7 linked regions of the Homo sapiens genome follow. The protein of the gene in region 1 interacts with the protein of each later gene in a biochemical or structural test. Each region holds a gene or a part of one and is shown in the gene's direction. Other genes may lie near its edges.

Region 1 (3,278 bases):
GATAATCGTTCATAGACAAAAAGATGTGCATATGTTTTTAACAGCAATTATTTGTTTTTCTCACAGCAGGAATCCCAGCTCCAGTGTATTTTGGAGTTTTGATTGATACTTCATGCCTCAAATGGGGATTTAAAAGATGTGGAAGTAGAGGATCATGCAGATTATATGATTCAAATGTCTTCAGGTACCAAATCAAAAGCATTCCCGCATCTCATTGCTACAGCATCCCAGATTTACACAATGCCACTGACACTAACAAGTTTTCATGTCATTTCACTGCTTGTAAGGTAAAGAATAGTCTAATCAAAAAGTGTGATCTGTAGTCATAGAATAATTATATTATTATTTGATTAGATCTTTGATTTTGTCCCTATTCATTACCTTGACCCCCATTTTAAATGAGTAATCATTTTTAAAATATGACAAAAGTGTCCAGAATACAGTAGAATTTTGAAAGTTTATGCACACAAATGGGCAAGTATTTCCCTGAAATTCAGAGGCATTTAAATTTAGGTCACATTTTGGGTTTGATTTTTATTCTTTTTCAAACTGAGCCAAACTGTACCACTTACGTCAGATATAATACCCCTGGGCAAGAGTTGGATTTGGCTCTAAATCTGTCCGGCTTTTATTGCCAAACTAATGTTCAATTATTCTCGTACTTGAAATGCATGAAAGTAAAAGGTTTTCTCTGTGTGGGTGAGTGTATATGGGGGTTGGGTGGCGTGGCTTTTTCACTATGGTATCATTCAGTTCAGCTCATTAAACATTTAGTCCCTTATTGCTTAAAAAAATGCAAAAAGCATTGAAGCAATGGCTTAAAAGCAAGAAAGATTGTTTAAAAGACTTACAAACTGAGCATTTTCTGGAGAAATAAACTTGGTACTGAACCATCTAAGTTGGATGTGAATTGGGCACACCATTTTGAATAAATTTGTTTGAGTTAATAGGTTTTGATGCTATGCGTGAAATTTATTTTGGTCTTTGAAAGGGACCCAATCTGTGAGTATAATTTAGTATTTCCTCACATTTTTGCTAAGGCTGTATTAACTGTAATGTAGAGACAATGCAACTCAATCAGAGATTGAGAGTATGTTTTCAAGGTAACCAGAATGAGACATTCAACCTGTTCTTCCATACCTTAGCATCTTCTGACAAAGCATAGAACTATAGGTTTCTCATGAAATAAACTGATTTAAATCTCTGGTTTATTCTGAAATCATTCTGCTTTACTCAGAGCTCCAATTCCCATTAGCATTTCTTTATGCAAGTTTTCCAAAGAAATGAAGTTGGGAAAGGTCTGAGGATAGGGTAGCCACATAATTTATCATTCAAAACTGGGTACTTTTGAGTGTGAAAAGGAGCACTATTAAAATTATACTGGGCCAGCACTAGCATAAACTGGGGCTGTTCTAGGCAAACAGGGATATGGTTACCTGGTCTAAGGAAATAATTTACAGAGAGGATGAAACTGATTATGTAATTAGTAGTAACTAAAAATGATGGTGCTACTAAGACATTGCTTTATTTTATAAACTGCCTTCAACAGTCTGTCAGTATTTCATAAAACAGTCTTTTATATAAGCCACCAAATCTACATTCTTAAAGAAAACCATCAGTATGATATTATTACCTTTTAAATTTTCTTTCAAGTTGGTTGTTGCATTAATTATAACAGAGATTCTCTCTTCTTCTAGACATATATATCTGGGACTAACTGTGATACTGGGCACAGTGTCAATTCTCCTAAGCATTGCAGTACTTTTCATTTTAAAGAAAAATTATGTTTCAAAACACAGAAGTTTTATAACCAAGAGAGAAAGAACAATGGTGTCTACAAGATTCCAAAAGGAAAATTACACTACAAGTGATCATCTGCTACAACCCAACTACTGGCCAGGCAAGGAAACTCAACTTTAGAAACATGATGACTGGAAGTCATGTCTTCTAATTGGTTGACATTTTGCAAACAAATAAATTGTAATCAAAAGAGCTCTAAATTTGTAATTTCTTTCTCCTTTCAAAAAATGTCTACTTTGTTTTGGTCCTAGGCATTAGGTAATATAACTGATAATATACTGAAACATATAATGGAAGATGCAGATGATAAAACTAATTTTGAACTTTTTAATTTATATAAATTATTTTATATCACTTACTTATTTCACTTTATTTTGCTTTGTGCTCATTGATATATATTAGCTGTACTCCTAGAAGAACAATTGTCTCTATTGTCACACATGGTTATATTTAAAGTAATTTCTGAACTGTGTAATGTGTCTAGAGTAAGCAAATACTGCTAACAATTAACTCATACCTTGGGTTCCTTCAAGTATTACTCCTATAGTATTTTCTCCCATAGCTGTCTTCATCTGTGTATTTTAATAATGATCTTAGGATGGAGCAGAACATGGAGAGGAAGATTTCATTTTAAGCTCCTCCTTTTCTTTGAAATACAATAATTTATATAGAAATGTGTAGCAGCAAATTATATTGGGGATTAGAATTTTGAATTAATAGCTCTCCTACTATTAATTTACATGTGCTTTTTGTGTGGCGCTATAAGTGACTATGGTTGTAAAGTAATAAAATTGATGTTAACATGCCCAATTATTGTTCTTTTATGAATCCAATGAATTTAAAACTATTGTTAAATATAATACTGCCCCACTTTAATATATGTAAGCAACTTCCTACTTATACACGACGTGTTCCTAAAACATGTTTGAAAGGTGAATTTCTGAAAGTCTACAATAAATGTAGGTGTTACAACAGGAATGGAGAGTGATGGATGAATTGATGGGAAGTCTGAGTGTGGTACCTTTTGGTGCTCCACAGGCCCACATCACAGGGCCTAGGGACTCCTGCACAGGGAGTTCCCCCTGGGACAGCCTGCCAGATAGCTCTGTTTCTCTGCAACTGAAAAAGTCAAGCCAAGAGTTTCTTTTCTTTTTTTTTTAAGACATAGTCTCACTCTGTTGCCCAGGCTGGAGTGCAATGGCGCGATCTCGGCTCACTGCAAGCTCCGCCTCCCGCGTTCACGCCATTCTCCTGCCTCAGCCTCCTGAGTAGCTGGGACTATCAGCGCCCGCCACCATGCCCGGCTAATTTTTTGTATTTTTAGTAGAAACGGGGTTTCACCGTGTTAGCCAGGATGATCTTGATTTCCTGACCTCGTGATCCACCCGCCTCGGCCTCCCAAAGTGCTGAGATTACAGGTGTGAGCCACCACGCCCGGCCAAGAGTTTCTTCTTTCCTGACTTCCTGATGCTCTTCTG
Region 2 (4,070 bases), on another chromosome or scaffold:
GGTTGGAGGATGACTGGATGTTGACAGATGACAATGAGGTGAAGAGCATTTTAGCAGAGGGAATGGCATGATCAAAGACAAAATGGAGAGTCAGAGGCAGGAATGCATATTTAGGGAGGAATGAATGAGCACTGGCTACAACAGAGATCTGGGAAGAAAAGCAAGTGAAGGAAGTAAAGCTGGAAACATGGATTGACAAGTTGCCTTTTTCAAATGGAAAAACTAACAGGTGTGAGGGAGAAGAGAGTCAATAGAAATTTCTGTCTTTTCCAGATTTGTTCACATTCCCCTGATTTGTAGTCATTTTGTCGGCTTGGGAAAGTGGTTTTTGAAAGATCGTCTTTATAAAGGTAGGCTCTGATAGGATGCTCAAGCTAAGAGCAAGGAAGGACAAAGAAGGCGCCTGGCGACAGAAAAGGGCACTAACAAAAATTGGGCAAAAAGGAAGTGTGGCGGTCCCCAAATCCCTTCTTCCTCCATTTCAGCTGAGATCATTCGCCAGTAGGCAACTGTGGTATTACCAATAAGTTTGTATCACCAATAAAATATTATAATGCACCTGGCTAAAAACCCTGGCGTGATAACACCAAATTCATGTTATTAGAAGGAATTAAATTTTAAAAAGCACACCGTTCCAGGCACACAGAAGGAGCCCCCGAACGTTTGTTTTATAAACGCAGGTTGGTTGCTGAGGCTTTGTTTTGGAGCCTACGTTTAGGAGAGGAAATGATTCAAAACTGCCCCCCAAAACCTATATCCTCCAGGAGCACTGAGGTTGGGGCGACCTGCTGCCAACTGGTCTGGTTTTCCCTTTTAACACACGCTTCTTGCCCACTATCCGGTCCCTGCGGTCAGTGGGTGCAGCAGGGGTCGCAGTCCAAACAACCAATCGCGACGCGGCTGCGGGGCGGGGGCCACAGCGCTCCGCCTCCCCCCTCCAATCCGCCCTCCCAATCCTCCTAGGCCGCTCTCTCTCGCACCTGCGTGTCCCTCTGCGCTCCGACTGGTGCGACTTCTCCCTGCGCTAGCGAGGCAGGGTTTTGGCCTCGCCTCTCGCGAGATCGCCTCCTGTTGCTGCCGCCGCCGCTCCTGGCCACTGACTGGCGGCGCCTGCGCAGCCGCCATGTTCGGTTGCTATGCTGCGGCCTAGGAGAGGGGGTGTGCTTGAGGGAGGAGGAAGAGATAGAGGAGGAGGAGGGGGAGGAAGAGGAGGTGGAGAAGGAGGGGGGTGACTGAGCTCCTCTTGCACTCTCACACACAAACGCTGCCCAGGATTACCCGCCAGCTCACGCCGCGCAGTGCGCTTTTCCGCTCCTCGCGCCCCACCACCAACATTGTTCTCTCAGGACTCCTGGGTCCCAGGGGCCGGAATTGGGCCTGAGCGGGAGAGGAAAGAGACTTGGCTTTGGCCGCGGGGTCGGAGGATTGGGGCCAGGCCCCCTCCCCCACGCACTTTTGGGGGTGTGGATTATCTCATCCCTGCAGGGAGGTAGGAGAGGTCGCCGGCTGCCCGCCTCCCTGCCACCTCCCCAGCGGCGCCGGCCCGCGGCTGCCCAGCAGCATGAGGTGGTGCTGGCGGCTCCGGGTCGTGGCGCGACCGCTGCGGCGGCGGCTGCTCGGGGGGCGCTGAGGTAGCCCCCCGGAGCGGCACGGAGGACGCGCTTCTCCTCTGCGCGCCGGGGCCTCGAGGCTTTTTTTCTCCAGCCGAGAGGACGCGGCTGTGATATACGAAGGTAAGAGGTTCTCCGGTCCCCGCCGGCCTCTCGGCCCTGCACGTTGAACGGGAGGCTCTTACCTGCATGTGTGGCTCCTGGGAGGTGAGCCAGGTGGGGCAAGCCGGAGGTACGAGGATGATTTGAAAGGAAGGAAAAAAGGACAAAAACAAACAAACAAACAAACAAAAAAACGCTTTCTTTCCTTTCTTCCTGGGACCTCTGCTTTTGCGGGGGTTATAGTTGGAATCTCTGTTATGGGTCAGCGAAGGGCCAAGGGATGGAATAGGTGCGGAGATGGAATGTTCCCAGTACCTAAACTCTAGGTAAAGCTTTGGAATCTTGAGTTTTCCATTGCTGGTAGAATTCCTTTTTTTTTTTTTTTTTTTTTTGGCTCATATGAGCGCTTCTTGCACGCTGCATGAGCCAACTATTCCTACCATTGAAGTTTTAAGCCTGTTATGATTCTACCAGTATATACCTGTATTTGGGAATCTGTAGTTGAGCCAAAAAAAAAAAAAAAAAAAAAGTTGAGATGTGGGTAAACAGTGATGCATTTCGCAGGGTTTCCATAAAATGGAACAGCTTACAGTTGCACAGGTGATGTGTGGATGTTTCTGCAAAACTTAGGGTGGAAGATTTTATGTCTGGGCTTGCATCATGTAGTGACATCAGTATGTACAAGGACGATTTGTAGGATTTTTCAAAACGCCTGTTCTAGGATAACTTGTTATGCATCTGCAATATGCCAGCTGCTTTTCGAATAAGAGGTTTCAGTAATACTAAGTTTCTGTGTCCAGATCTTGGGCCCAGTTGAAACAGTACAGCTGATTGGTCACATTTAAAACATATTTATGGAGAAAGATAAAAGGCCAATGTGTCCGACTTGCAAAAGACAATTAGAGTAGAAAGAAGACTGGAACAGTAAAAGCCAGGGCATTTTTAAATCTTGGTTTTCTGAACTTTAACGTGCCAGAGGAAAAAAATTTTTTTTCAATTTTAAGGGGGAAGGAGATGGCCTTAAAATAAAGGATTGTTCAGAGCCTAAACTGTGCTTAATGGAATAGAGCTAGGTATATCATCTAAATCTTGAATTTGACTAATATAAATTCAGCTTTCTTTTAAAGAAAAAACTCGTAAGCAGAAGTTTGTGTATTCTACAGAACCTCTTCACTAGCTCGTAAGTGTGATCATTTTGTGGACATCACTGTTTTTTTGTTAGAATAAATTTATGCTCCAATTACCACAAAAGCAATTTTTATGTCTCTTCGCATTTTTTATGGTACACATATCTTTGTTACATTTTGCATTGAAACACGCACGGTCCCATAGTATCATAATCTTCAGTGATTTATAAGAGAAACAGTCTATTTTGTACATGGGAATGTTTGTCATGTTGCCAGTCTGTTTTAAAAATTTGGCAAGAGGTTTTTAAAATCCAAGGAGGCACCACTATTTTGTAGTTTTTAAAAATATTAATTGAGTAGGTCCATGTTTATTAAGTTAGAAAATCACGAGTTCCTCAAAAGTAGTAATAGACGAGGATGTGATTTTTCTTACTGCCCATTTTCTAACATCTTAGCTTCAGAGCTGTAGGTATTGAATTGAGTCAAACTTGTGTTTTTTTCTTATGTTCTAATTAAATATCTTTTAAAATGTCCCTAGTAACATTGTTACTTTAAATTTATAACACCCAATTTCTAATTTAGGCTAGGCATAAAACCAGCATTGATTGAACGTACTTGCTAAAAATACTTTCTGGGTCGGATGTACTTAGAATGCAGCCTCAGGAAATTTCATTTGAACTATTCTGTGACCAGTGTACACTTCATTATTGTTGAAGGACTTTTAAAAAAAGTATAGATCTCTCATACTCGATTTAATCAGTTTGAGCATAGATGCCTAACTTTAAAAAAAAAGTATAATAAAGTGGGATAGTAATACAATTTACGTGAGATGGTAATAAAAACTTTTCAGCTTTTTTTTTTAACTTGTATGACTTCGTTAGGTTGTTATTAAACTGTGATTTGTATTTTTAAAATAGTTTTGTCTGTTAAACATAATTGAGGTGTACAGTACAGTATCCATTGTTATCTGTTTAGTATTTATTTATGACTTACAAACTCTAAAAGCGGGATCAGTGATCATGGTTTTTAGTAAGTTGTCTTTAAGGAGCAAAGTAAGAGACTAGCAGAAAATTGCAAGGAGGTTTGTTATTGAGAGTACTTCTGCCCCCCGCTTGAGAGTTAATATGGCCACTTTTAAACAAGAAAAGTTTTCCAGAAACGTGGAAATCTTGTTTGGTGTATGTTTAGGGGCAAATGTTTTAAAGTTTTGCCTAAATTCTTAGTTAGAATG
Region 3 (3,500 bases), on another chromosome or scaffold:
GTCCTAGGTGTTAAGAAGGAAGTGAGGCTGGGCGGCTCATGCGTGTAATCCCAGCACTTTGGGAGGCTGAGGCAGGCAGATTGCCTGAGGTCACGAGTTCAAGACCAGCCTGGCCAACATGGTGAAACCCTGTCTCTATTAAAAATACAAAAATTAGCCAGATATGGTGTTGGGTGCCTGTAATCCCAGCTACTCAGGAGGCTGAGGCAGGAGAATTGCTTGAACCCAGGAGGCGGAGGTTGCAGTGAGCCGAGATCGCATCATTGCACTCCATCCTGGGTGACAAGGGCAAAACTCCGTCTTTAAAAAAAAAAAAAAATTGACCTGCCCCCTTATCCCCACCCCTGGCACTCTTGCTTTCCTTCTCTTTCTTTTTTTCCTTAGCTTTGTAAGGTAGGTTTAGGGTTATTTATGTTTGCTGCTATTTACTGTCTCCATTCAGCTAAAATATAAACTGTGAGGCAGGGATCTTTGCCACTTTTTCTCACTGATGGTCACCTACGAGATATCAATAAATAGCTGCTGAATGCATGGATAGAGGACTTGGAAGTGCTTATGTCTTGACATTGTGTTTGTCTGCCAGTGCTGAAGAGACCTGTCACCTCTGAGGAACTCCTTACTCCCGGGGCTCCGTATGCAAGGAAGACATTCACGGTAGGCTGATGGTCTGGCCTTTTTCTCCCGTGCTGCCCATTTTTCTGCACCGTGTCCATGTGTCAATGGGTAGCTTATAGACTGAAATGAAAACTACTTTTCTAATTTTCTTTTTGTTTTTAGCGTAATTATGATACTAGGCTTTCTTGACCTCAAGGCACTAAGGTGCATTAGGACTTCACATGCGTTATTATTAATATACCATTTAAAAATTTTTTGATGTGTTCTTTGTTAAAGAAAAGATTTCCATTATGCATTTATTCTAATTTAATTGCAAATTTCAAGATTGGCATCATTTGCACTTGCATTTACCTTAAAATCTAATAATTTTAGATTTTATTTCCCACCATTAGTCATTTAAATTATTATTAGATTTTATGGCAAATGGAAGTGCAAATGATGCCAATAATCCCTTCTGCATTAGGATTAATTCTAGAAATTATTTAAAACATTAGGGGAGTGTTAAGCTAGAGAAAGGAAACTGTGGGATAAACTTTTCTACCGTAGGCAGGGTGCTTCGACAATGTGTGCATGCCTTGAGGTACACGAGCCTCTGACTTGCTGTGAGCAGCTCCGGACCACCTGCCCCTTCTTGGAGGTCCTTTAGGTTCCTAATGCCTACGTTGGATTTCTTCAAATGGAATGAAAGTGCTCTTTTCAGCATCACCGCACCCACTCCCCTTCCTGTGTCTCCTTCTGTCAATCTCCTCAAATTCACGTTCATACCCTCTTCAAAACACTTCTCCTCCTTCATCTTCTAACTTTAGTGGCATTGCCTCAGGCTGGGGGAGAATTCTATCCACACTCAGTCATGCTGCAAACATTTGCTGAGGGCTATTTCACATTCTGAATGCTGAGGAGTTAATAGGAGAAAGGCGCTGACAACATGTCTGTACCAGAGGAAAAGATAAACTCCACCTTCGGAAGTGAAATTGAGTATAATATACAAATAACAGCAAACTGTAAAGTAACGGAAGTGCCTGAAAATCTTGAGCATTTCCACAAAAATTTTCATTTGCCTCCCTGTTTTTCCTCAGTCTCCAGCATTCAAGAGAGGTAGATTGTTATTTTGAAAGTATTTATTTTTGATTTTTAATTTAAATGCCAACATTGTTAGTAATTGATTGTGAATGTGTTTCAGCTGTGTTTTGGTTGGGATATGTGTGAAAGATGTGGCTAGGAGCTGTCCAGGGAATTAAACTGCCAGCTCTAATAATGATTTCTATAGAAAAGGCCTTCTCTAATTCCAAACAACTTTTGGATTAGAGTCTACTTGTACATTGTGAACTTTATGTACTTTTTCACTTCTTTTCCCCCCTTGGTGGAGAAAGGGGCATGGTGGAGCCCTTGGTGGAGGGCTCCCTTGGTGGAGGCTGGGCATGGTGGCTCACGCCTGTAATCCCAGCACTTTGGAGGCTGAGGCAGGTGGATCACCTGAGCTCAGGAGTTCGAGACCAGCCTGACCATCATGGTGAAACCCTGTCTCTACTAAAAATACACAAAATTAGCCAGGCATGGTGTTGCATGCCTGTAATCCCAGTTACTCAGGAGGCTGAGGCAGGAGAATCGCTTGAACCCGGGAGGTGGGGTTGCAGTGAGCTGAGATTGCACTACTGCACTCCAGCCTGGGTGACAGAGCAAGACTCTGTCTCAAAAAAAAAAAAAAAAAAGCCAGGTCTCTTTATTTCCCACCATTAGTAATTTCAATAATTATGCTAGACTTCAATGACGTTGCAGGATCAAGAGTGTATCATTTGGATACTGGGGAAAAGAACAAACTTAGAGCAGAAATTGTATCTGGAGAGACATTTCAACCACGTTACGACTTTTTCTAAACCTTCTATTGGAGTCTGACATTAAATTGTATAACAGCCTAAGAAAGAGAAAATCTTCCAGTTGTTTATTGAATCATGCCCTCATGGGAGCATCTTCTTTCTGCCAAACAGGTTAGATTTTTTTTACCACCTTTTCTACAGGGAGATGCCCGGGTTTGTGATAGAAGCAGTGTTCCAATCCCCTGGCAGGGAAGAGAGAAACGGAGGAAAATATGTCACAGTGTATACTTAATCCTGGGCTGGTTTTCTCTCCCTCAGAAGAATAAGCAAATTGCCGGAGACAGTCGGCTGCTTGCTAATTGTGGTTTTCCTCTCTAGATTGTTGGTGACGCGGTTGGCTGGGGTTTTGTGGTGCGAGGAAGTAAGCCATGCCACATCCAGGCTGTAGACCCCAGTGGCCCTGCAGCCGCAGCAGGAATGAAGGTACTAACGGGTCTTTCTCACCCTCTTTTATATCTGTCTTGGGTTCTTCATGCTAAATTGGCCATGATTCTTACTAGGGATCCAAACCCATCTTATTTTGTGTCCTTTTCTATTTCTGCCCTCTCTTTCTTGTTCTCCAAAGTCTTTAACCTTTCCCTGGGTCTTCCCTCTCCTCTAATAAACATTTAGAAGTGTCTAGCCAGGCGCGGTGGCTCACACCTGTAATTCCAGCACATTCAGAGGCCAAGGCAGACATATCACTTGAGGTCAGGAGTTCAAGACTAGCCTGGCCACCGTGGCGAAACCCTATCCCTACTAAAAATACAAAAATTAGCCGGGCGTGGTGGCACACACCTGTAATCCCAGCTACTCAGGAGGCTGAGGCAGGAGAATCGCTTGAACCCAGGAGGCAGAAGTTGTAGTGAGCCAAGATCGCACCACTGCACTCCAGCCTGGGTGACAAAGCGAGACTCTGTCTCTAAAACAAAACAAAACAAAACAACAACAACAACAACAAAACAACATTTAGCAGTGTCTAAATACCTCTAGCTTAATTTCATTATTTGGTGCCATGTGTACTTTTTCTCC
Region 4 (4,004 bases), on another chromosome or scaffold:
TGGCTGGGGGTTCCCTCACTTGCCCAAACCTGGAAATGAAGCATGTAGCAATTTCTCCAAGTGATCTCCTGCAGCCGGGGCAGCCTCTGGGAACGCAGACTTCCACCCGCTGCTGCTTTCCAGGCAAAGGCCTTCTCCCTCCAGGCTTGTCCAAGAAGACGGGGAGGTGGTGGGAGAGAAGAGGAAGAGATGGAAGGGCTGTGAAAGCGGGGACCGGGTGAGGGCTGGGGCTGAGGAACAGGTAGGCGGCGGGCCCAGGCTGGCCAGTGCTGTGTGCAGGCCCGGGTCCCAAGGCCTCCGAGGCCACTCTCCCCACGACCCACCCCCTCCCCACGCTTCGCTCATCCTTTTTTCTTTCTCTCTTTCTTTTCTTTCCTCCCTTTCTCTCTTTCTTTCTTGTTTTAAACAAAGGTGTCCGTTTCAAAGACAGCAGGGAATGGCTGAGTTGAAGGAGGGATGCAGTCATTTAAGGCGAAGCCCGAGGAAGGAGCAGAGGCGTGAGGGCTGCTGCGTCCAAGACCGGGGAGAGGGGCTGAAATCGCGGACTCTCTCTGGGGGACCCAGGAGACTGCTCCTCCTGGCAGGACCCCTCTCTCCCAGAGCGGCATCGCGCAGACAACGCGCCTGGTGCCCGCCCCTCAGGACCGGACGCCGGGTGTCGTGGGGTGCCTAGGACCCCCGCCCGCTTCCGTCGAGCGCCCGCCCCCGGCTTCCCGCGCCGGCTCCAGCGCCCCCGCCGCTCCCTCCCGCAGCCGGCCCCGCTCCCCTCCCCGCCCCTCCCGGCGCGCGTGCGCCCCGTGCCCGCGCCCCTCCCCCGCCGCCGTGGGCGCGCTCGCGTGCCCGTCGTCCCGGGCGGGAGCTGGAGACGGCCAGCGGCTGCTGGACGAAGAGCGGGCGCCGGGAGCTCCGAGAGCGCGGCCGGGCGAGGCGGGAGCGCGGGCGCTGGCCTGGCCGCGGGCGGGGGCCGCCGCCGCGCCGCTGCCCCCCTGTCGCGGGCCGGGCCGCGGCGCCGAGCGCGAGGGCCGGGCTCCCGGGGCTGGCGGCCATGGGCAGGAGCCGGAGGCGGCAGCGGCAGCGGCGGGCCCCGCGGGCGGGGAGGCGCGCGGCCCACGGCCCCTGACGGCCCCTGGCGGCCCGGCGCGCCCCCGCGCTCCCTGGGGGGCCGTAGCCTGGCAACGCCCGGCGCGCCCGCCCATCCCCCGCTGCCCTTTTTCTCCTGGCCGGGTGCGAGGGAGCATGCCCGCGCCTGGCCTCGGCCAGCGAAGAGTTAACCTGAGGGGCGAGCCGCTGCCCCCACCTCGGGGGCGTGCCCCCCTCCCCCGCTAGGCGGCCCGCCCCCCGCGCCAGGGTATGGCCCCTGGCCCCGGCCCGGGACCCGAGGTCCCGCGCCCGGGTCAGTGAAAGGCGTCTTCCCGTTCCCGCCCTCCGCCTCCTCTCGCCGGCCAGCAACATGGGATGTAATATGTGCGTGGTCCAGAAACCGGAGGAGCAGTACAAAGTGATGCTGCAGGTAGGGCCGCCGGCGCTGCGGCGGGGGCGCGGCCCTCCGCGGGGAGGAGCGGGCCAGTGGGGAGGCCCGGAGCGGCGGGCGTGGGAGAGCGGGAGGGCTCGAGGAGGACAAGGTAGGGAGCCGTCCGCACCCTCCCATCCTGGGGCTGTTGGGTGTTGGCGCTCCGTGGGAACCAGCCACGGGTGGGGTGGGAAGTTGGGGTTGGCCCGGGTGGGGCGCGCTTCCGTCCCGGGAGGCGCGGTGCGGCGGGCGCGGGATGGAGGTTGCATAGCAACGAGCGCAGTTCCCCGCACACGCTCTCCCCGCAGGACCCAGGGCGGGGGAGGGAGCCAGGCTCCCGCCGTGCGGGGGGCGCCGAATCTAGATCCCGGCGGGCCTGGAGCGTGGGAGTGCGTGGGCGTCCCCGGGCGCGGTCCAAGTCCGTCCGGGGGCTGGGTGCCCACCCCGACACCCACTCCCGCCTGGCCCTGCCCGAACGATGGGCTCCCGGGCCTTAGGCGTCTCGGGTGAGTGGGCGCCGCCGGGATCAGCGGGTTGGGCTCTCTGCGGGTGGCAGTGCCTGGCCGGGCTTTGCGGGGCGTGGACCAGCAGGGCCCCGCGGGGAGGGAAGGAGACGCGGGGCCCGGAGCTCGGACCTGGAGCCCAGCCCCGCGGCCCGGAACGGGGCTTCTTGCCTGTGCGTGGCGTGACTACGTGAGTGCGTTCCTGTGCCCCGTCTCTGTGTGCGCGGAGGCTCCCCCGGCCCCGCATTTGTGTACTTTCTGTGTGCACCCTGCAGACTGTCTAGAGAAATGTCCCGGATGCTGTGGGCTGAGACCTCCTAGGGCTAAGTGGAGGGAGGTCAAGGTCAAGGCACCCAGGAGCAGACAGGGCTCAGACAGGTATGCGTTTAGTGGCCTGGATTCAACTCCCGGGTTTATTGGTCTGGACTGGGAAGGAATCAAGTGCTTTGCAGGAGGGGTGTTGGCTTGGGAGAACGTGGGGGAACCCGTGCAGGGATCGGCGAGAACTCCGGGGCGGGGGCGGGGGCGGGGGAAGGAGGGGCTGGGCACGGGGGAGAATTCCCAGGAATCCGGGGACTGACTTCACGCTGTGAGCCGAGCTCCTCTGGCCACCTGGTGCGGGAGCCGAGGGGCAGGGCGGGGACGCAAATCTTGCCCCACCCTGGCGGAGCTCCTGGTCCTCTCTCCCCGGCCCTTCTCCGGGGGTGCGCGGGGCCCTCGGCTTCTCCCGTTCGCTGTCCTCCGCCTTCTTCCCTCTCAGTTCCCGGCTGCCACTCCTCGTCTCTTGTTCCCGCTGTTTGGAAACCTTGTGTGGCCATTGCCAGCCCCCTAGCGGGATAGGAATGCGACCGAGAGGGCGTCCTGTGGAATCCGTGTTGGATTCCAGGGCTGGGATGGTTGGTTGACGGGGACTCTGGATCCCATCCTCCTGCTTCCTTTTCGGGAGTCATTCCATCAAACGGCAAGCGATTTCTCCAAGCGATTCCTCCGGGGCCGTTTTGACTTTCCTGGAGAAGGATTGGTGTCGCACTTCATTTAAGGCCAACCTCGTGGGGACGTGTGGATAGGGGAGAGCGACCCGAGCTGCACCCCAGGCCTGAAATGAGCCATGGGACGACACCGGTAGCCCTTGGGGCTCCCCACAGCCCTCCGGGAAGGCCTCGGCAGGTCGGGCTGGGCCTGCCTTCAGGGAGGTGAACTTGGGTGGGCCCTCCCTGCTCTGCGCCCTAAGCTCTCCTTCATGGAAGGGACTTGCCCACCCCAAGGAGACCCGCCAGGAGGAGGGCCACTGCCGCATGCGCCCTCTGTGCGCTTTCCTGCTGGGCTCCCTTTGAAACCGTGGGAGTTTGGCTGCAAACTTTCACTTTCTACATTCCTCCTTGGCCCAATCAAAGCCGGGATTTTACGAGGAGAACCATCCTTCACAACTAAGGGAAAACAAGAGGACTGAAAAAAGTAGATACGGAAAGCAGTGCAAGCCATGAGCTGTCCCAGGGGACTGCGCTTCTGGGGGTGGACGCATCACCAGGTCCCAGCCTCTTCAGAGGAGAAGGAGCTTTTGTTCCAAAAGACAGGTCAGCTTCTGGGACCCCGTGCCTGCCTCCCGGCCTCCTTAAACACGGGTGCTCCCCCATCTTTAGGGGGCACTTCTCCCTGTCCCCCCTGAGTAACCTCGTCCGCACCTTGTCAGGGTGAGGCACTTCATGGGCCTGATTTTCAGAAAGAAGCACATGTGCATCTGCAGCGCCTTCCATCTACAATCCACAGAGGCCTGGGATCCCCAGGCCAGGAACCCCCAAGTCTCTAGCCTAGCCTTGTGTTCCAAGCCATTTTCTGCCAATGACTCACAACACTTCCAAAATTACAGCTGTATTGAGCTATCATTCTCCTACTGCACAACTTACCCTTTCAAAGTGTACAAGTCAGTGGTTTTTAGTATACTCACAAGGTTGTGCAGCCCACACCAGTAATTCCAGAACGTTTTCATCACC
Region 5 (2,333 bases), on another chromosome or scaffold:
ATAACAAAAACATCTCAGTATACTTCATTACTTATTTAAGCGTGATGTCTTTTTTTTTTTTTTTTTTTTTTTTTTTTTTTTTTTTTTTTGAGACAGAGTCTCGCTGTCTCCCAGGCTGGAGTGCAGTGGCATGATCTCGGCTCACTGCAAGCTCCGCCTCCCAGGTTCACGCCATTCTCCTGCCTCAGCCTCCGGAGTAGCTGGGAGTACAGGCGCGGCTAATTTTTTGTATTTTTAGTAGAGACGGGGTTTCACCATGTTAGCCAGGATGGTCTCGATCTCCTGACCTCGTGATCCACCTGCCTCGGCCTCCCAAAGTGCTGGGATTACAGGCGTGAGCCACCACGCCCGGCCACGTGATCTTATTTTAAAAGAACACTGCTATAGAAGAATTTACACACCAAATTCCCTGAAAGCTAAAGTATTGTTCCATAACTTACACTTGAGGCAATCTGCTCAGTGTGTAACCACTTTATAAAAAATAACTTACCATTGATAACCTGGAAGGTGGACTACTTGTAAGTAGCTGGTGTTTATTGATTAAACCATGGAAGTTTTCATGATACCCAAGCATGTTGCTGAAACTGATGCATTTGAAAGAGCTGTTGAAATAATGCAAAACTTTGGTTTTATAAGAATCTACTCATGTTTTAAAAGTATTTAACTCTGTAGACCACAATTATAGAAAGCTCAGTAATGCTGCTAATGACATTTGTAAACTATATCTGTAATGTAGTGCAATATTTTTATATTTCACTGGGAGAGGCAGTAGAGACATCATAGTTGTACTTTAGTGCAAGTGGGGGAACACTCCAAATAGCCTAGAGTATAGTAAGGTACAAAGCTTCAATGAAAAAAGCTGTATTATATTACATTACTGATGTAATCTTGCTGCCATGCTATGTATCAATAGCTAAAAAATAATAATAAAGACTACCACAGAAAACAAGAATATCTTCATTTAATGAAATCTTTAAAAAAGGTGATTGCTGCATCTCTATGGAATTATCTTCTGGTATAATTTGGCCATGCAGAAAAGCATAACAAAGTCCACTTTTCCTAAACAAAATTGCTGTTTTGCAGACTGCCCCAAAACATTTTTTTACTATTGTTTCCTTATGGATTATCAAGTTTATGGGTTTCCTTTGGCTATGTATTAGTAATTAGACTTTAAAATATATTTTCTACATTAGTATTAGCTGAGTGAATGGCTTAGACAAACTGAGCAACATTTTAGCATTATTAGCAATCATAATAGGCTATACTTCTTCATATCAAGCCTTATATTCAATATCAGAAGTACTTGAAATAAGTGGCTATTTTGTGATGCTGGGAGGAGAAAACACAACCTAAAAATTTTGAGGGGTACTATCAAGTTCTAAATGTATAGCTGAATTTTTTTTAAAGCAATTTGGAAATATTTGGCTCTTAAAAATAAGATAAATAATAAAATGTTAAGTCCCCTAAAAGTGAATAAATTTTAAATACCTACTTTTAAAAATACTGTCTTCTAAATTGACATAATTGCTTTTCTTACCAAAAGAAGGAGAGGTTCCCCTAATTCCTTTTGGGCCATAGATCCGCTTTTAGGATCTGATTAAAGATGTGGACTTTCACCGCAGGAAGATACCCATGGGCACACCATTCAAAATGTATCAGATTTCAACGGTTTTACAAACTCCCCCGGGATTAAGTCAAATGGGTGGATATTACAGCTGTTTTCATCAGATATGGTTATTTGTTGACAACCATCAGGACAACAATGTTTATAGATGGAAGGATAACTTCCTGGTTTTTTTCCACATTGAATGTGGCTAGTTACATATCTCAATTTAAAATAAATTGTGGAAAGCCAAAAAAGTATGGTCAAGCTAACCTGGGGTGGCTTTTACCTGATGCCTACAAGCACAGAAAAATAGTTTTTAATTAAATATCCACAGTCAAAATGATACCTTATGTATTTTATTCCAACAACATTTGGTTTATAAAGGAATACAAACAGGCACAAAACATGGTTCAGAAGATTTATTAAGTAAACTTGCTAAAATATGGACAGATACACTTAGCAGTCAAACAGTTGAATATTCATTGCTACCTCATTAAAGTTTTTGTATCTGTATTACCAGGTCCAAACATAAAAACCACCTCTGTTCAAAAAATAAATGTTCAGAGAGCTGTATGTTCTTTGTTCTGGTATGTACATTTTAAAAAAACACCTCTTTCCAGTCTTGCTAACCAAGAATATTAGTCATATAAAAGAACTTAGAATTTTTTTCCCCAAGTACAAGCTATCTTTTGCTCCAAAACAGTTCTGAAGGTTTTATTTATATTTT
Region 6 (3,500 bases), on another chromosome or scaffold:
TCCTTATTCCTGGCCTTGGATACTAAGATGATTCAGAAAATTCAAGAGCAGATCCCCAGAAGGCTTGTTGGGGGCGGGGGTGAGCTCAGTGAACAGGGGGTTTCCTCCTTGCCCCAGAAATTGCCCAGGGTGTGGGCTGTCTCTGCTGCCCCTCTCCTGAATGCTCGCTCTGTCCTCCACGCTGTGTGTGATAGGGGCTGACCCTCCCTCCTGCCGTGTTTCCCTTGCCCCCAGCTCATCAGGGCACCATAGAAAAACTAGGACCTCGAAGACTCAGGTCCAAATCCTGGTACTATCAGTTACAAGATGTCTGACATTGAACAAGGGACTTTACCTCTCTGAGCCTCAGCTCCTTCATCAAAGAATGAGGATAAACCTACATAGGAGATCATTGGTATAAATCCCTTGGCACATAGGCAGTTCATAAATGATCATTCTCTTCCTGCCTTAGCCCCTGGCTTCCCTGCAACCCCATGAGAGAAGCAGCCAGGAATGCAGGCTCGGTGGGTCTAATTCCTACAGGAAAAATAAGGAGTCTATTTGCCTTTCATGTCCCTCCCCAAATCCTCTAGAACCCTGATGGTGAGTGTAAAGCAGTTAAGCCATTCTCTCCATGCCCTGCCTCCCAGTCCTGCAGTTTCCAGCTAGCCCTCGGTAGAGGGGCACAATTCAGAGGAAACTGTGGGTCTAGACTCTCCAGGGTGAAATGGTCCAGAGCTTAAGCATGCGGGTAAAATCTGATGTCCCTGGGTCTGAGCCCCCAGGTCTCAGTGTGACTCCTATCACTTCTAGCTTAGGACGGGACCTCTACAGATGAAGCTTGCCAGCCCTCCCAGATTTTCTCTGGAATCTCCCAGGATGCATCTCTGAATCTGAACATGAGATGATGCAGAAGGCATGTGCCAGATACTGGAAAATCAGCACAATGCCCTTTATTTATATGGCACTTATTTATTTTTTTATTTTATTTTTTATTTATACAGAACTTTTACAAAGTTCTTTCATGGATGTTATTTCATTGGCACTGGGTGGCAAGCCTGTGGGGGAGGTATTTTTACCATTTTGGAGATGAGGCAAATCAGGCCCAGAGAGGTTAAGGAACTTAGCCAAGGCCACACAGCTAGTTAGTGAACTAATAAGCCAGTCTTTCTGGCTGGTAAAGAGAATGTGTCTCCCACTCTGCAGTAGGTAGCAGTGGCCTTCCTGTCCTAAACCTGAGGTCTGATGTCCAGAGTGGTGAGAGAGCTGGGGGAGGGGCTCACCATGGGATGGTTGTGTTATGTGAGGACTGGATGCCCCGTGTGCTGTGCTGTCGACACTATTTCTAACCTTTGTCATATAAACAATGCCACATCTACTCAGAAAGGAAAAGATAAGAAGAAAGCCAAGTATGGCAGCCTGCAGGACTTGAGAAAGAATAAGAAAGAACTGGAGTTTGAGCAAAAGCTTTACAAAGAGAAAGAGGAAATGCTGGAGAAGGAAAAGCAGCTAAAGATCAACCGGCTGGCCCAGGAGGTATGTGTCCTGCCTGCAGGCCAGGCAAGCAACCCTGGGACACAATGTGGTCGTTCTCCATGTGCTCCCAGAGGACCAGCTGGAGTTGTTCTCCTCAAATGGCATACAAGGGTGGAGTGAGCCCTTTCCTGCTCCCCAGCCTGGAGAGAGAGATCATGCCACCTGCCCAGGGCCATCTGAGGTTAGCTCCTGGCTTAGGAATTGAAACTAATCTCCTTGCTTGGGGGTGTGAGTCTTGCTCCTGGCTTTGGAATTGAAACTAGCCTCCTTGGTCGGGGGGTGTGAGTCTGAGGTTAGCCTTTCTGACCAGATGGTAGGTCTCAGGTTAGCCTTTGATACACCTGGCTTAGAGATTTGAGTCTGTCCTCTTCACTCTACCCCACCAGAGTCTAAGGCTGGGCCTCTCCATCTCAGGTGTGGCTCTGAGGCTACTTAGAGTATGGTCTGCGGCTAACCCTTCTGCCTTGCTTGTAGCTTTGAAGTTAGGCTTCCACTGACCTGTCTACGAGTCTGAATCACTCTGGCCTCCCTTCCCAGGTTATTGTAAGACCAGACCCCCCCCCACCCAACTTAGCTTGGCTCTGAGAATATGGGTCTGAGGCTAACCCCCTTATGCAGGTGGTAGGTGCGAGGTTATCTCCCAATTAATCAGGCTATCAGTCTAAGGCTGCTCCCCTCAACATAGGGTGTGTCTAAGGCTAGACCTCATCAACCTGGGAATATATCTGAGGCTGTCCCCATGAAGACATGTCCAAAGCAACCTTACACCATGAATAATTCCTATGCTAGGTGAGATGGGTAACCTTAACTCCCCAGCTGTAGGAGGTATCATTGTTTCTGCTTCTCTTTAACGCATCCATGAATCAGAATGCCAATTTGATTAGATTATAAAACCAGAGAAGTCCTGGAAAATGTGAAATGCATTAGGTCTGACATTATGAACAAATTAGCCACAAAATTAAAAATAAGATTGAACTTATGCTTCTGAGGGCAAGGCAGAATGGAGCAGGAAAAAAAAGAGTCAAGTTAAACTCTTGGAATGTGCTGGGGGAGGCTACAAAAACTCCATTCTTGGAAAATCATAAGAGCCTCAGGGTTCATGGGGATCTGGGATCCAGCTAATCCCTCACAATACATAAGCCCCTTTTCTGATTTTGCCTACAAGTTCTGCTTAGTGAATTTGACACCCCGCCACTCTCTTCTCCCTTGCTGCTGCCTCCTTGAGGGCCAGTTGGAACAAGCCCAGGTCTCTTTCTAGATAGCTGATGCACCTCACAGTACTCTGGAGTTTCTAAAGGAGTGCTTTCATGCTATTTCTATCCACATGTTATTCAAATGTGCCCTTTGTCCTCTCCTTTCTGCGCCGATCCTGGGTCCCAGGTGTCTGAGACAGAGCGGGAAGACCTTGAAGAATCGGAAAAGATTCAATATTGGGTGGAGAGGCTCTGTCAAACGCGCCTCGAGCAGATTTCCTCTGCTGATAATGAGATTTCAGAGGTAACAGAGCCCTTCTTTCCACATAGACCCTCCTGCTGTCTTCAGAATGACCCACTGTGGGGACAGCGGGAGGTGAGATGACAACTAGCAAACGTCACTAGCCTCACAGTGCCCATCCACTGTCCAGGCCCACCCCTACCACCCCACTCCCCTCTTGAGGAGGAGGGATATGTCTGTATTTCTGGGTATACTCCCAGAGTGATCTCTAAGTCCCAGCTCATCTGCGATAGTCTCAGTTAGGCCTGTTGTCCTGGCATCATGACTAAGAGTCCCCCTTACACTCTCAAGGGCATTCCAGTTTAGAGAATGAACTCTGTGAACACCTTACCACCCACAGATGGCATAACTTGGGGCTCTTCTGCATTTGGGCACTCCCTAACAGCAGCCTAGTATGGCCTCAGCTGGGCATCCAGGTGGCAGAGGAATGGCGCCCCATGGTTCTGATGTAAGGGTGGTGGGTCTCCAGTAGCAAGAGAAACAGATTAGAA
Region 7 (3,500 bases), on another chromosome or scaffold:
GGTGATATTTTGATAAAAATAAATATTTTAACATTGCCATGGTTAATTTTACTTTCAGTTTGGAGGATGGATTGACTACACTTATAGTTAATTTAAAAATACAAATTTAAAAATGTTGTGGTGTACAAGGAAATAAGACATAGAAAAAGTTTGGAATTATACAGTATTTTACTAAATGTTAAAAACAAAAAAATTAACAAAGCATCACAGACTTAAATGAATACAAAGTATTTTAAGAATAGAATTTAAAATGCCTATGCTGTTTTGACATAGTCACTAATTGTAACCTTTTGAATAAACTGGAAATGAAATTAAATTGTAAAATTCAACTTATTTAATAATAATAAATTGTGTTTCTTTTAATTGATCTGGTAGCAGTTCTGCACATACTCAAAATTTGGAACATGCCCAAATCTGGCAGTTAGTTCTCATTGACCCATTTTTTGTAACGTTTAAAAATGTGAAGCAATCAAAATAAGATTGTGATAATAATTTCTAGAGAATATTCAAATGTAAAATGAAGAGTATCCTTTACCCTTCATCAGTATTATTGTGCTCCTTTCTGCTTCTTTATTTAGCTTTATTCAATTTTAGAAACTTTGTAATTGTAAATTTGTGTTTTCTGGTTTTTTAAAAACTGCATATTTATCCTAAGTATACCTTGATATTTCTGTAGAAAAGAACCTACTTGATTTTATTTTATTTCTTATTATTTATTTTGAGATGGAGTCTCGCTCTATCGTCCAGGCTGGAGAACAGTGGCGGGATCTCAGCTCACTGAAACCTCTGCCTTCCGGGTTCAAGTGATTCTTCTGCCTCAGCCTCCCAAGTAGCTGGGATTATAGGCATGCACCACCATGCCCGGCTAAGTTTTGTATTTTTAGTAGAGACGGGATTTCACCATGTTGGCCTGACTGATCTCGAACTCCTGACCTCAGAAGATCTGCTCCCCTCAGCCTCCCAAAGTGCTGGGATTACAGGTGTCAGCCACCACACCTGGCTGAAAAGAACCTACTTTAAATGATGATAATAAGTTGCTTACTATTAGTCTGAGAAATACAAATTTAACGTCTTCTTATTTGATGTAAAATAGTCAAAATTTCATACCAGTCTTGTTGAATTACATGATTTCAAACTTTCTTATTATGGTCTGTCAGCTAAAGAGACAAAAAACAAACCAACCAACCAAAACCTTCCCACCACACACGTCCTGTCCCCACTCAGGGTTCTGGGCAGAAGAGACTCAGTGTCACTGACTGTTCATGAAGGTCCTGGCCCTGGAGTACTGCACCTTTTAATGTTACCCTTAATATGTCCATGTTCAAACAATCAGGACTTCTGAGGGACCTACTCAGTAATAGATTTTGTAAAATATACCCTTATTTGGCTAGCACTTAAATTGAAGTTACTTTCCATAAAATCCTTATTTTGATATAGGTTTATGCAATGAATTGTTCATCTTGTTTGACATCTTAGTAGATGAGAATTCCGTAATATTGGTTATAATACTTTGTGTAGACATTATACCTAACTGCTTTTTTGAACCTAGTACACTTCATTTTATGACTGGGAAAGTCTAAATAAATCAATTAACCTTCATGAATTTTAAATTTTTTATAGCAAGTATTTCTCTTCAGTCTTAATTTTTCCTATATTATAATTCATTTGAGTTTTCTTTCCTGGAAAGCAGTTCTTAATTCACCTGCAGTATTTTCCTTTTAAAAAAGTGTATTACTTTTTTCCTGTCTTTTTCTTATTCTTATTTTAGCTTCATCTTATTCTATGGCTACAGTTACAGTTTTTCCCCATTTATCTGAATATTTTCAGTAGTTCATTTTCTTCATTTGACCTACTAAACAATGCTTCTTTTACTATTTTCTATTACTTATCAGTTAATGTTTCTACGATTTATTCATCCTGATGCAATATTTTTGAGTACATGTTGATTGAGTCAGTATTTGTGAAAAGGAAGCCTAGAGTTTGGTAATTAGTTTTTCCTGTGGAGGTAGTTTCTGAAGTAGAAACAAACACAAAACACCTGAAGTGCTTTTGGAGGCATGTAACTGAGGCAGCGATGTAAAGTCACAGCACAAAGAAACAGAGGTACTGAGGATATTTGAAAAGACAGCTCATGGAGCTGTTAGCACCTATCTTTGCCCTGTGACAGCTAGTCATTGCTGCTATTATTATTTTTTATTATGATAATCGTCCTCATTATTACATTCATTTTAAAGGTCATCAAATGGAGAACAGACATATAGTTTATTTTAAGTGGTGCTACATCTTATAATTTATCAGTGGATATGTTGCTAAATGATGGTTCCCCAATAGCTCTCCTTGGGGAACATTACATTGGAGTGGTCACATATGAATAAACTCAGAGTCACATTTATTGCTTTAGTAAATATGTGCATGGAAAATTATATTTTATAGCATAAATAAGCTTAAGGTTAGTTTATCACTAAGAAACTAGAGAAAATATACACATTGACCTTTTTTGTGTGCTTACTTTGTATGTTTCTTCTATGTGAATATTTTTAATATTGCCTTTAATTGTGGGTGATTTTTGAAAAGACAGACTTTTTAAAAATACTTGCAAGTACTGAGGTTTATGTATTTACGTACTGATTCTGTAGTTCCTGGTAACATTTTTCTTTTTTTTTCCTGGTAACATTTTTCTAATCAGTTAACTACCTTGCTTAGAACATTTTTGCTAACACTCCAGAGTCAATTATAAAAAATATGACAGATATATGGTAAAAGGAAATTCAGAATAATCAAATCAGAAATGCTGAGAAAAAACCTCTACTCTGGCTGCTGAGAGGCTCTCTAGTCTCAGACAAGTCCCTGTCTAGGCATTCATATATTTGACTGTGACTTGTGGGAGGACCATTTTCACAAGAAATTTGCAAGGATAAATATGAAAATGAATACTGTTCTTTTTTTCTTAAATATATTTTAAGATACTGAAAAATTATTTCCAAGAGGGCATAAAAATTTATATTGTTCTTTCTTCTTCAAATAGGTTATGTGGGTATGCAATTTATGTCGAAAGCAACAAGAAATCTTAACCAAATCTGGGGCATGGTTCTTTGGAAGTGGCCCTCAGCAGACAAGTCAGGATGGAACCCTGAGTGATACAGCTACAGGTGCTGGCTCTGAGGTACCAAGAGAAAAGAAAGCACGACTCCAAGAGCGATCGCGGTCTCAGACACCCCTAAGCACAGCAGCTGCCTCCTCCCAGGATGCTGCTCCTCCCAGCGCACCACCAGACAGGAGCAAAGGGGCTGAGCCCTCGCAGCAAGCCTTGGGGCCTGAACAGAAGCAGGCTTCATCCAGGTCTAGAAGTGAACCTCCTAGAGAGAGGTAATAGTTCTTTCACCCTGTAAGCAAAAGGCAAGATTTTGCTAGGAGAGCAAAGCCGTTTTCAAGAATTTAACTTCTATTACGAGGAATATGTGGAAGTAGTACTTCTCAGGCCCCACATGGAAAAACAAAAG

What was found.
Region 2: the proteins of SLCO1C1 (region 1) and PTPN4 interact in a test that uses a peptide from one of them, tested with the Homo sapiens proteins (one large-scale study listed by IntAct).
Region 3: the proteins of SLCO1C1 (region 1) and DEPTOR interact in a test that uses a peptide from one of them, tested with the Homo sapiens proteins (one large-scale study listed by IntAct).
Region 4: the proteins of SLCO1C1 (region 1) and PDZD4 interact in a test that uses a peptide from one of them, tested with the Homo sapiens proteins (one large-scale study listed by IntAct).
Region 5: the proteins of SLCO1C1 (region 1) and PDZD8 interact in a test that uses a peptide from one of them, tested with the Homo sapiens proteins (one large-scale study listed by IntAct).
Region 6: the proteins of SLCO1C1 (region 1) and USH1C interact in a test that uses a peptide from one of them, tested with the Homo sapiens proteins (one large-scale study listed by IntAct).
Region 7: the proteins of SLCO1C1 (region 1) and RIMS1 interact in a test that uses a peptide from one of them, tested with the Homo sapiens proteins (one large-scale study listed by IntAct).

What each region holds. Positions count from the first base shown.
Region 1 is NC_000012.12:20,750,609-20,753,886, forward strand, and holds the end of SLCO1C1 (solute carrier organic anion transporter family member 1C1), read left to right. Parts: intron 1-66; coding exon 67-184; coding exon of another isoform or gene 185-287; intron 288-1,697; coding exon 1,698-1,920; 3' UTR 1,921-2,778; downstream 2,779-3,278. UniProt on the Homo sapiens protein: Mediates the Na(+)-independent high affinity transport of organic anions such as the thyroid hormones L-thyroxine (T4), L-thyroxine sulfate (T4S), and 3,3',5'-triiodo-L-thyronine (reverse T3, rT3) at the plasma membrane.
Region 2 is NC_000002.12:119,758,652-119,762,721, forward strand, and holds the start of PTPN4 (tyrosine-protein phosphatase non-receptor type 4), read left to right. Parts: upstream 1-1,270; 5' UTR 1,271-1,733; intron 1,734-4,070. UniProt on the Homo sapiens protein: Phosphatase that plays a role in immunity, learning, synaptic plasticity or cell homeostasis. Regulates neuronal cell homeostasis by protecting neurons against apoptosis.
Region 3 is NC_000008.11:120,006,222-120,009,721, forward strand, and holds part of DEPTOR (DEP domain-containing mTOR-interacting protein), read left to right. Parts: intron 1-583; coding exon 584-654; intron 655-2,807; coding exon 2,808-2,912; intron 2,913-3,500. UniProt on the Homo sapiens protein: Negative regulator of the mTORC1 and mTORC2 complexes: inhibits the protein kinase activity of MTOR, thereby inactivating both complexes. DEPTOR inhibits mTORC1 and mTORC2 to induce autophagy.
Region 4 is NC_000023.11:153,827,745-153,831,748, reverse strand, and holds the start of PDZD4 (PDZ domain-containing protein 4), read left to right. Parts: upstream 1-1,204; 5' UTR 1,205-1,450; coding exon 1,451-1,510; intron 1,511-1,789; exon of another isoform or gene 1,790-2,016; intron 2,017-4,004.
Region 5 is NC_000010.11:117,279,108-117,281,440, reverse strand, and holds part of PDZD8 (PDZ domain-containing protein 8), read left to right. Parts: 3' UTR 1-2,333. UniProt on the Homo sapiens protein: Molecular tethering protein that connects endoplasmic reticulum and mitochondria membranes. PDZD8-dependent endoplasmic reticulum-mitochondria membrane tethering is essential for endoplasmic reticulum-mitochondria Ca(2+) transfer.
Region 6 is NC_000011.10:17,509,917-17,513,416, reverse strand, and holds part of USH1C (harmonin), read left to right. Parts: intron 1-1,362; coding exon 1,363-1,515; intron 1,516-2,895; coding exon 2,896-3,012; intron 3,013-3,500. UniProt on the Homo sapiens protein: Anchoring/scaffolding protein that is a part of the functional network formed by USH1C, USH1G, CDH23 and MYO7A that mediates mechanotransduction in cochlear hair cells. Required for normal development and maintenance of cochlear hair cell bundles.
Region 7 is NC_000006.12:72,176,550-72,180,049, forward strand, and holds part of RIMS1 (regulating synaptic membrane exocytosis protein 1), read left to right. Parts: intron 1-3,025; coding exon 3,026-3,366; intron 3,367-3,500. UniProt on the Homo sapiens protein: Rab effector involved in exocytosis. May act as scaffold protein that regulates neurotransmitter release at the active zone.